2 separate regions of the Homo sapiens genome follow, and region 2 is linked to region 1. The links come from fine-mapping of genetic effects on gene expression. A gene starts in region 1. The other region holds a variant in brackets. All regions are shown on one strand. Distances are from middle to middle.

Evidence for each region. PIP is the estimated chance that this variant, and not a neighbour inherited with it, causes the effect.
Region 2: its variant is fine-mapped to the expression of SPRING1 in esophagus mucosa (GTEx, PIP 0.92).

What each region holds. Positions count from the first base shown.
Region 1 is chr12:116,735,175-116,740,550 of GRCh38, forward strand. SPRING1 (SREBF pathway regulator in golgi 1) reads right to left here and starts at 2,895. Exons shown (of 5, transcript NM_024738.4): 1 at 2,616-2,895. The coding sequence starts at 2,726. RNFT2 (ring finger protein, transmembrane 2) reads left to right here and starts at 3,141. Exons shown (of 11, transcript NM_001382266.1): 1 at 3,141-3,196; 2 at 5,171-5,347. The coding sequence starts at 5,324. RefSeq lists enhancers at 1,437-2,395, 3,164-3,423 and silencers at 2,584-2,633, 2,714-2,973.
Region 2 is chr12:116,709,867-116,715,242 of GRCh38, forward strand. SPRING1 (SREBF pathway regulator in golgi 1) reads right to left here. Exons shown (of 5, transcript NM_024738.4): 5 at 305-5,376. Among named protein-coding and RNA genes, the nearest start is that of SPRING1, 26 kb to the right of the region's middle. The variant T/C (reference allele first, on the strand shown) is at 2,929.

The sequences.
Region 1 (5,376 bases):
CACTGAGCGAGACTGGGAAGACTCGGGGAGGAACAAGTGCTGGCAGAGAATCAAGAGTTCTGTTGGTCCAAACACGAACACATTCAACGTCAACTAGAAAGTAGGAGGGTGGTTGCCGGGGGCTGGGGAAAGGGAGAAATGGAGAGTTATTGTTAAATGAATATTAAGTTTCAGTTTCTACAAGCGTTATGGGGATGGATGGTGGTGATGGTCGCACAGCGTTAAGGATGTATTTAATACCACTGAACTGCACACTTTAAAAATGGTTAAGATGGGGCCGGGCGTGGTGGCTGACACCTGTAATCCCAGCACTTTGGGAGGCCGAGGCAGGTGGATCACTTGAGGTCAGGAGTTCGAGACCAGCCTGGCCAACATGGCGAAACCCTGTCTCTATTAAAAATACAAAAATTAGTCGGGTGTGGTGGTGCATGCCTGTAATCCCAGCTACTCAGGAGGCTAAGGCAGGGAGAACTGCTTGAACCCGAGAGGTAGAGGTTGCAGTGAGCTGAGATCATGCCACTACACTCCAGCCTGGGTAACAGAGTGAGACTCCATGTTAAAAAAGGTTAAGATGGGAAATTCTGGCCAGGCGTGGTGGCTCACACCTGTAATCCCAGCACTTTGGGAGGCTGAGGTGGGTGGATCACCTGAGGTCGGGAGTTCAAGACCAGCCATGACCAACATGGAGAAACCCCGTTTCTACTAAAAATACAAAATTAGCTGGGCATGGTGGCGCATGCCTGTAATCCCAGCTACTCAAGAAGGCTGAGGCAGGAGAATCATTTGAACCCGGGAGGTGGAGGCTGTGGTGAGTTGAGGTCGTCCCACTGCACTCCAGCCTGGGCAAGAGCAAAACTCAGTCTTTAAAAAAAAAAAAAAAAAAAAAAAAAAAAGATGGGAAATTTTATGTCGTATTTTACCACAATAAAAAAAAATTGAAAAAAAAAAAAGATATCAACTAGGCAATTGGATATAAGAATTTGGGGATTTCTGGACAGATCTAGGCTGTTGTTATCAACTACTGGCATCAACAGCATACCTCCAGAGATCACCTGAGTATTTAAACAATGGCCCAGAGATTACCTGAGTCAGATAGAGAGGAAGGCAGAGGACGGAGTCCTGGCGCACCCCACCACTCAGGGGTCACAAGACAGAGAAGGGACAACACGCGACTGTGAGGAGGTGTCTGAGGTGGCAGAAAACACAAGTCACAGAAGTCTGGTAGTCACATGATTGCCCAGACATCCCGGCCAATAAAAGGGACTTACAACACTCAGCCTCTCTGTTTGCCTAAGGTGGCAGGTCACGTACAATTCCCTATTCTTCCCTTTTCACAGCTCCCCTGCCAATCCACTAAATGTAGAGTGACCACATAGTTTTATCAATGTTCTATTCACTTATATATTTTATTTACACACTTGAGCTTTGAGAGTAAAAAGGAGAGCTTTTTATAACCATGTCAGGACAACAGCATAACCCATTATCCTGGGTGCACCCTGGGGTGTAACCACCCTTTCTACACAACTAAGCACTCAACCTGGACTTCTAGACAAACTTATTAATGCTTTGGGTAAGATTTCCCCACCCGTGCTCCTTGCTGTTTCTCCCAGAAATTCTCACATGGAAGAAAAATGAAAGGGTGCAGTGTGTTGGAGGGGTGGAATTCTACCAATCAAGTTATGCACAAAAAGCATAAAAGGAACTGTGGGTCCTTTTGAGTCACCCAGGAGGACACAGAGCCCCCAAATTAAACGAAGGGCACCCATGCGAGGGCTGGCCGACCCTCGCCACCTATGTCTTGGTTTCCCCCACTGTAATACTGGGAACCCCACTTCTCCCAGGCCTGCTGCGAAGATGAAGCCAGCAAATGCACGCCCTCTCTTAGCTCTGGACCGGGCAGGTGAAAAGCAGGGAGGTGTTCATAAAAGCAGTCCCCACCGCTGAAGGGTCCTCAACTCGGGGTTCTAGTCCCAGCTCTGCCCTGGCCTAGCAACCCCTTCCCGCTGCAGGGACCAAGGCGGTGGGCAGGTCCCTCACCCGTGCTGAGACCGGGACAGGAATGCGCACCTCTCCCCACCCTCGGACGCCCCGGCGGCGCCGCTGCAGAAGTCGGGAGGTCGGACAAACGCGAGGAGTAAGGAAAAAGAGGAGGAAGGGAAGGAAGGAGGAAGAACGAAGTGAGGAAAGAGGATGTCAGGGAAGAAAGGGAGTAAAGGAAGAAGGAAGGGAGAGGGGGACAGAAAGGAGGAGGACGGAAGGAGGAAGGGAAGGAAGAAAGACGGAAGGGAAGGGAGAGGAAAAAGGGGAGGAAAGAAGAAAGGGAAGGGGGAGGAAGGAAAGGGGGAGGAAGGAAGGAGGAGGAAGGTGAGGAAGGTAAGGAAGGAAGGGAGGCAGGGAGAGGGGAAGGAAGGAGGAAGATAAGGAAGGAGGGGAGGTAGGAAGAAGGGAAGGAAGGAGGAAGGAAGGGAAGGGGAGAAAGAAAGGAAGGGAAGGGGTAGGAAGACAGGGAGGAAGGAAAAAAGGAGGAAGGTAACGAAGGAAGGAAGGAGAAAGTAAAGTAAGGGGGAGGAAGGAAGGAAGAAGGGAAGGGGAGGAGGGGAAGGGCGGCCACTGACCTGCTTGAAGGTGCTGCTGAGGAAGTAGACGAGCGACAGCCCGAAGACCAGGGCGAGCACCCACCTCTTCCGCAGAAGCCGGCGCCACACCATGGCCGCCAGGTTCACCATCCCGGCGCGGACGTGGGGCGCGGCGGCCGGGGCGCGGAACGCGGCAGGCCCGGGTCCCGGGCGGCATGGCCCCTACGCGCCCGGCAGCCCCATCCCTCCAGGCAGGCGCCGGCCCCGCCGCCCGCAGCCCAGTCTGCTCCCGGCAGCCTTGGGCGCAGCCCCACGTGACCCCGCCCTACGCCCCGCCTCCGCTCCGCAGCGACAAGGGCTAGTCGCGCAAGATCTTCTCACCATTGGTCCCTAAGGAACGGCGGCCTCCTATTGGTTAAGTGCCGGGAAAGGGGGCGGACAATCGCGTGAGTGCTGCGGGCGTAGCTGTGCCCGGGTCCTAGCGCCGGACCCGGCGACGCCAAGAAACCACCCAATAGGAGGCCGGAAGCATCGGAAGTCACATGCTGCCCAGGCTGCGCGGGTGATTGGCTTGGCTGGACCTGAATGATGCGGCTGTGATTGCTGAATTGTCTGGGCAGGTAAAAAGAGAACGCGATTTTTTTTTCTTTTCTCCCATCATGGTCTGTGTAGTCTCCTGCCCTTGCAGTCCCAGAGCGTTTTGCGCTGTGTGTTGGTTGCAGGGATGAAAAGCGCTCGCGACGTTGTTCCCGAAGTGCACCTGCCGGCTTCCAGTCCAAGTGATGCAGGCGATGCTCCTCTGAGTGCATTTCGGTGCAGTCCTGTAACGGGCCCCAGGGGCGCAACTTGAACCATCGCAAGCATCGAAAAGTCTCGGTGCGGTCCTTCAAAGGGACATAGTGGGATGTACAGAGCAGAGGATTAAAAAGCGTTTCATTCATTCAGATGCATCCCGCGTGCAAAAATTTATTCCAGAATTATGTACGGCCTGCTTCCGACAAAGAATCCGAAGCCTCTTCCAATACAAGCATCCGAAAGTAGAGTTTCGAGCATTCGATTTAGGAGTTAAATGTGTGGATGAGAACTTTGGAATATGAATTTTATTTTCCCCCAAGGATTTGCAATGTGGGATAATGGAGGGAGGGGCGAGAGGAGGATTAAGTTGAGATTGCAAATTCTTGAAAAATATTTATATAATGACCTTTTCTTGATATATGAAGATGCTGCTGCTGACCGGTTTGTTACCTAATTTTTCAAAAGAGAAAGGAGGCTTCACTGGCGGGTCATTTTTAATCAGTGGCCCTAGTGACACCATTGCTGCCCCCTCAAGAAGCCTGGTCAGGATTAGGAAGTCATTCAACAGCCAATAATCGTGCCCTAAACTGAAGTCAGACACCATCTGACTGATATAGACACCCTATATCCACAATATTGGCTCTGCCTCCAGAGACAAGAAGATATTCACGGAGGCTAAACCTTTTCATGGGAAGTAGATGGCCCTTATTACCTTGCTAGGGTGAAAGGTGGGACAGGGAGCAAGGGATCTAGAAAAGGGGAACTGGGAGACCCATAGATGTTTTATTCATTGAGTAAATACTTGTTGAGCGCCACTCTGTGCCAAACAGTGTCCTGGATGCTGAGGCAGAGGGGTGATCCAAGTAGACAGGATCCCTACTTTCAGGAATGGCATTTATATTCTAATGGGGAGGACAAATCATAAATAAATAAGCAAACATGAACAAATAAGTGCTATGAATAATATAAAACAGGGCAATATTACGGGGAGTCAGGAGAATGAGAAGAGAAGGCCTCTGGGAAGAGACGACATTTGCCCTGCGGGACCAAGCCCTGCCACATTTAGAGGAGAAAGTATTCCAAGGGGAGGGCACAGCAAGTGCAAAGGCCCTGAGGCAGGGACACGCTGACACATTAGAGGAACAGAAGGGCCACTGTGGGTGGACAGGAGTGGGAAAAGGGAGAATGGGAGGAAATGCAGTTGGAAACAGATGATGCTACATCAGGAAGAACCCGTAGGCTATGGACAGAGCTCGGGTTTGATTCTGATTGCACTGGGCAGCCGTTGGAGGGTTTAAAACATATTTTCTGGCTTCCCCAATCAGGACTCTTAGTTTGACAATAGGATGAAATACAATACCTTAAGAGTTTCAAAGAGGGCCGGGCATGGTGGCTTATGCCTGTAATCCCAGCACTTTGGGAGGCCAAGGCAGGCGGATCACTTGAGGTCAGAAGTTTGAGACCAGCCTGGCCAATATGGTGAAATCCCATCTCTACTAAAAATACAAAAATTGGGTGGGCGTGGTGTCGCATGCCTGTAAGCCTGTAATTTCAGCCACTCAGGAGGCTGAGGCAGGAGAATCGCTTGAACCTGGGAGGCAGAGGTTGCAGTGAGCCAAGATCGCACCACTCCGTCTTAAAAAAAAAAAAGGAGTTTCAAGGGGGGATCACTGAGAGGCTACCCAGAGATACTGAGCAGATGGAATCATCTGCTTATAGCTACCAACAATGTCCTAAGGCTTCTTAGCAGATTCAAGGTATCGCAGGGACTGTTCATCCAGGTGTTCTGTTCCATCCAGGTTTGGAGTCTCTGGCAAGCTCCCCTGACTGTGCATCCCTCTGGAGACGAAGAGGAGGGGGAGGCCTGTCCTCTCTGGGATCCATTGGTCACATCCCCCTGAGGATTCCCGAATGCCTACCTCCAGTGTCGTCAACATGGAGTTCTGAAGTCCATGTGGCTCTTCACAGTGAATCAGGTGACACGTCTCCAAGAGAATTTGCATCT
Region 2 (5,376 bases), 25 kb before region 1:
GTCGAGTCACGCCGAGAGACACCCTGCCGTGACAGGTTTCTTCAGCATCCCTAATGCAGGTCAACTCCGGCCGCGACAAATGCCTATAATTTATTTGTGCAGAACAAAAAGACTTCCTTCCCCACTGCATAAAATCAGACAAGGAAAAAGCAGGCAAAGCTAAACTCCTGTGCAATTATGAAAGGGTTTTAACCTCTAACTGGGCTTCAATCTTCCAGGCAGGATGATAGAAGTGGAAAGTGCGCTTGCCTGCTCTGCAAATGAATTCGCTATCATTGGATTAAATCAATCTAACAGGAGCTAATTATTTTAAAATAATATGGACAGCAGGGTCCTACCTTTATTTACATACAAATACAAAATCCACGTTTATATACAAAATACAGGCAAAACGCTCCAGCGGAACTTTAATTAGTGGTTATCTCTAGGGGCTGGGAATCTAATTTGGCACAATTTAATTTCTTTGTAAGTTCATACATTTTAAGGTTTCTGCCTGGTAATCACAAAAGCAGAGAAAGGAAAACCTTTTACTGAGCTGAGCAATGCCTGTAGAAGCCCTGCTTAGTAGGAGTTCCAAGATGCTCTGTGTATCTCAGGTGAAGCACACCTAAATAATTGAGCACTGCATTAAGGCTCAGAAACGTAGTACCGTTGTGTGCTTCTCTGCCAAAAGGCAGCTATTTTTATGACAGAAAACACAGCAGCTGTTTTCACAGGTGCAGGGCAGCAGTACATGGGAAGTTGGTCCCAGCAGAGAAGGATATGGTGTCTCTTTAAAACTGGAGGAGGAAGAGGCAGAAAATGGTGAGCCCCAGTTGAAATCTGCAAGAGAGAAGGAGGAAGCCCTGGTTTGGAGAAAAACGGGCTCCAGATGGCTGGGCTACATTTGTCCTGTGAAAATCAAAAGCCTGGGACCCAGCCGCTGGGATACGAGGGCTCTGGTCTTGCTTTAACAGCCAGGGGGACTTTTGGCTTGTTACAAAAATTGGAATTTGGATCTGCAAGATACGCTAGCCATCACCCTTAATTGACAAATGAGGAAACCAAAGCCGGAGAGGGTAATTTACTCAAGGTCATTAAGGTCAGTGCTCTTGTCAATAAAATTAGGATATTGCTCACATACTTCATACTGCTTTTGTTACACACACACACACACACACACGCACACACAGAGCCAATGTATGGAAACATCCCTGAGAATATATAATGTCATCACATTTACTATTCAAATTAGCATCAACTGGTCAAATATTTATTCAGGTAGTAACTTACTCAACATTTCTATCTTGACATCCCCCAGTACAACTTAATACAATGCCCCAATCCCCACAGGACAGGACAACACTCTCTCTCGCTCTCTCTCTTCCTTAAGAATAGTGAGATGTGGCCAGGCGCGGTGGCTCACTCCTGTAATCCCAGCACTTTGGGAGGCCGAGGTGGGCGGATCACGAGGTCAGGAGATCGAGACCATCCTGGCTACTAACACGGTGAAACCCCGTCTCTACTAAAAATACAAAAATTAGCTGGGCACGGTGGCGGGCGCCTGTAGTCCCAGCTACTCGGGAGGCTGAGGCAGGAGAATGGCGTGAACCCAGGAGGCAGAGCTTGCAGCGAGCCCAGATCGTGCCACTGCACTCCAGCCTGGGCGATGGAACGAGAATCCGTTTCAAAAAAAAAAGAATAGTGAGATGTGACCAACATAGCCTGGAATCTTAAATTACTGATAATGGTGATTTCTCATTTAGACAACACTTTTTTCCCCTCCTCAGACAGGGTCTCACTCTGTGGCCCAGGTTGGAGCACACTGGCGCAATGACGGCTCACTGCAGCCTTGACCTCCTGGACTCAAGCCATCCTCCCGCCTCAGCCTCCTGAGTAGCTGGGACTACAGGTGTGCACTACCATGCCTGGCTCCTTTTTTTTATTTTTTGTAGAGACAGGGTCTCCCTATGTTGCTCAGGCTGGTCTCGAATTCTGGGCTCAAGCAATCCTCTCACCTTGGCCTCCCAAAGTGCTGGGATTACAGGTGTGAGCCACCACACCCGGCTGCCAACACCACTTTCGATTTTGGGATAATCTGGGTGCACAGTGATCAGAAGCTTACCTACCCCACGTTGCATAAAAAAAAGTATGAATTTAAAAATTCCAAGAGTAAACTACCCTATGAAAACCTCTGGCAGTGCTGATGAAAACACATTTCTGGTAGTGATATGTCTTGGTCCCTCTGGTCTCACAGAATGTGTAGTCCTGAGAAAAAATAAACCTGGACTCTTGGTAAAATATTTGAATAATTAACTGCTTTGCTCATTGGTTGTAACTGGCAAGTCATTCTCTTTACTACATTAAAGTCTGCACTTTCATTTTACAGACAGTCCTACAGTTCAACTCCAACATCAGGGACTGAGTCGTACACAGGAAGATCACTGAGTAGGTTCTGTGGAGACGCAGTCGGCCCATATGCACGTCACCACTCGGCTCCCAGCTCAGGTGCAGACCAACGGCGACCACTTGCTCCACTTTGCTCTGTGACAGCAGACGAGGTAAGGCATGTTGCAGATACATGCTGAATATAGGGATGCCTGTACACAAAACTGCACTCATGCTGTGATAACACGCAAAAGGTCACACACTGGAAGAGCCTTGCCCAACGAACGATAGACTAACAGGCCAGAGGCGGGGAAAGCTTCTCGGAGTCCCACTATCTTCTTTGTTTTTATTGCTCCTACTTACTTATGTGATACCTTTTTAGTAGAATGACTAGTTTTCTAAACAGAACCTGTAATGACAGGCTCACATTTCTTCCTCAACTCCCACCTCCAAAGCCACTCCATTCAAAGAACTGCTGGTGAGGTGCTGGGGAGTCAATCCGTCGTAGAGGGGAAGCGTTCTACCCCTCCAGATCCTTCTGCAGACAGGAGGGTGTCTGCA[T/C]TCGGCGGAGTCCAAGAGTGCGGTGAGGACACAGTGGCAAAGGAATAATGCCATTCCTTGAGGCAGCGCTGGGCTAGTAGAGACCTGTGAGGAAGTAATGTGTCCTGTGGGGATTTCAGGGTAATTTAATCAGCAGCACTTCAGCAGGGTAGAAAGCAAGGGCGGGGAAAAATAATGAAGTCAGCACTCAGCTACCAGGAGCTCCTCTGTTCAATCTAACGGGGAGATATGACCCCAGAGCAGGGCTTCCCTCCCTCCACCCGGCTCCCACTTCCAGCCAGGTAATTCTGTGTCGTGGGGGCTGTTGGGCACCATCCCTGGCCTCCCTCCACGAGTGCCCACAGTACTGCCCTCCTCCCCACCTGTGACAAAAATGTCTCCAGACATTGCCAAATGTTCCCTGGGGGGCAAAATTGCCCCTGTTGAGCACCACTGCCCTAGATGAACTGGAAAAGTTGGTTTGTGAATATGTGAGCTTAGTTGTTTCTAACACAGGGCTGAAAAACAAGAGAAGGGGACAAAGGCTGCTTTCATATAAAAATGTACTGTAGTAATCAGTAAGAAAAAGAAACAACATTGGCTAAGTCACGAATAGGCATTTCACCATATGTACATGATAAATGGCCAATCAAAATAAGGAATGGGGCTCATTCTGCTGGAAATTAAATACATTCAAACAAGAACAGAGATCCATTAGCAAAATGTTTAAAAATAATATCACAGGGTTACCAGGGGTATGACAAAAATGGACACTTCCATACACACTAGGTGAATATATTGGTGAAAATAGTTCAGATAAACATACAACCATGTATGTAAAAGTATTTATCATCAATGCATTATTTGTAGTAGCAAAAACAACAAGCAGCCTTGGAAACCAGTTAATGTCCTCAGCAGGGAATTAATAATATTATTGTATATTCATGAAATTGACACCATGTGGCCACACAAATGCATTACACAGGCCTCTATGTAACATAGGATATTCATTAGAGAATTGTTTTTCAAGAGGACAAAGTACTTTCATTTTTGCCTAGAAAATGGGGGAAGACAAAAATGCGCTTCTCTCTAGGTTGTGTGATTTTAGGTTATCCTAAGTTTCATCCTTACGTGCTCCTGAATTATCTGAAATATCGTATCTTTAAAAACAGTAACAACAATAGTAACAAGAGCTCTGTAATTCCTACCCTTCCAACCTCAGGAGCCCACCCACCCCTATCCGAGCCGACCCCTGACTGCCCCTGCCATTGCTCCCTGCTGAGTTGCAGACATTGACTTCTTGCCAAGCCTCAGGCCTTGCTCACATCGACACCTCACAGTGACCCTGAGAGGCAGATGCTGTGACCCCATTTCACAGATGAAGGGCCTGAGCCACAGAGGAGGAAGACTGCCTCAGCCACGCCGCTAGTAAGTGGTAGTTCCCAACTCTAGAGTCCCAAAAGAATTCTGTCCTACTTATGAAAAGTATATCCAATAAGCAGTACCTCCCTGTGTTTACAACTTATCTGCTGATCCCAAGGATGGGAAAAGCTGCACTCAGAAACTTGCAAATTGTGCAACTGTTCCCCACGATTCCCTTGGGGCCAGTGCCGACTGAGGCATCTCCAGGAGGCCCCAGTTGGGCTTGGGGACATGCTGAGAGGTGACAGCACTGCTCTCAAGTCATATCCTCTGCTTCTGCAAAAGCTGTGGAGCTCACCCATCAATAGCAGCTCCATGCCGGGCGCAGTGGCTCACGCCTGTAATCCCAGCACTTTCGGAGGCTCAGGCGGGCAGATCATCTGAGGTCAGGAGTCCGTGACCAGCCTGGCCAACATGGTGAAACCCCGTCTCTACTAAAAGTACAAAAACTTAGCTGGGTGTGGTGGTGTACGCCTGTGATCCCAGCTACTCAGGAGGCTGAGGCAGGAGAATTGCTTGAACCCAGGAGGGGGAGGTTGCAGTGAGCTGAGATCACGCCATTGCACTCCAGCCTGAGCAACAGAGCAAGACTCCATCGCAAAAAAAAAAAAAAAAAAAAAAGGCTCTAGCATTGCCAGATCCCAGGCCCTGTGGAAGGTATTTCCCTCCCTCTTTTGTCCTTGCTTGTCTCAGAGCCCTTTTCACAGTCTCTTGTGTGCTTCTTTCCCTGTTAGGACCAATCTTTACAACTCCAGCAAGCGCAGCAAATAAGATGCAGAACTGGGGGAGATGCAACGTATGACTCAATTCCCTTGAGCCGAAAACACTCACTTATTAACAATATTTTTTTCTTTTTTTTGAGACAGAGTCTCACAAAAACAGGCACACGCCCCCACACCCGGCTAATTTTTGTATTTTTAGTATAGATGGGGTTTCACCATATTGGTCAGGCTGGTCTGAACTCCTGCCTTCAGGTGATCCACCTGCCTCAGCCTTCCAAAGTGCTGGGATTACAGGCATAAGCCACCACGCCCCACCAATGAAATG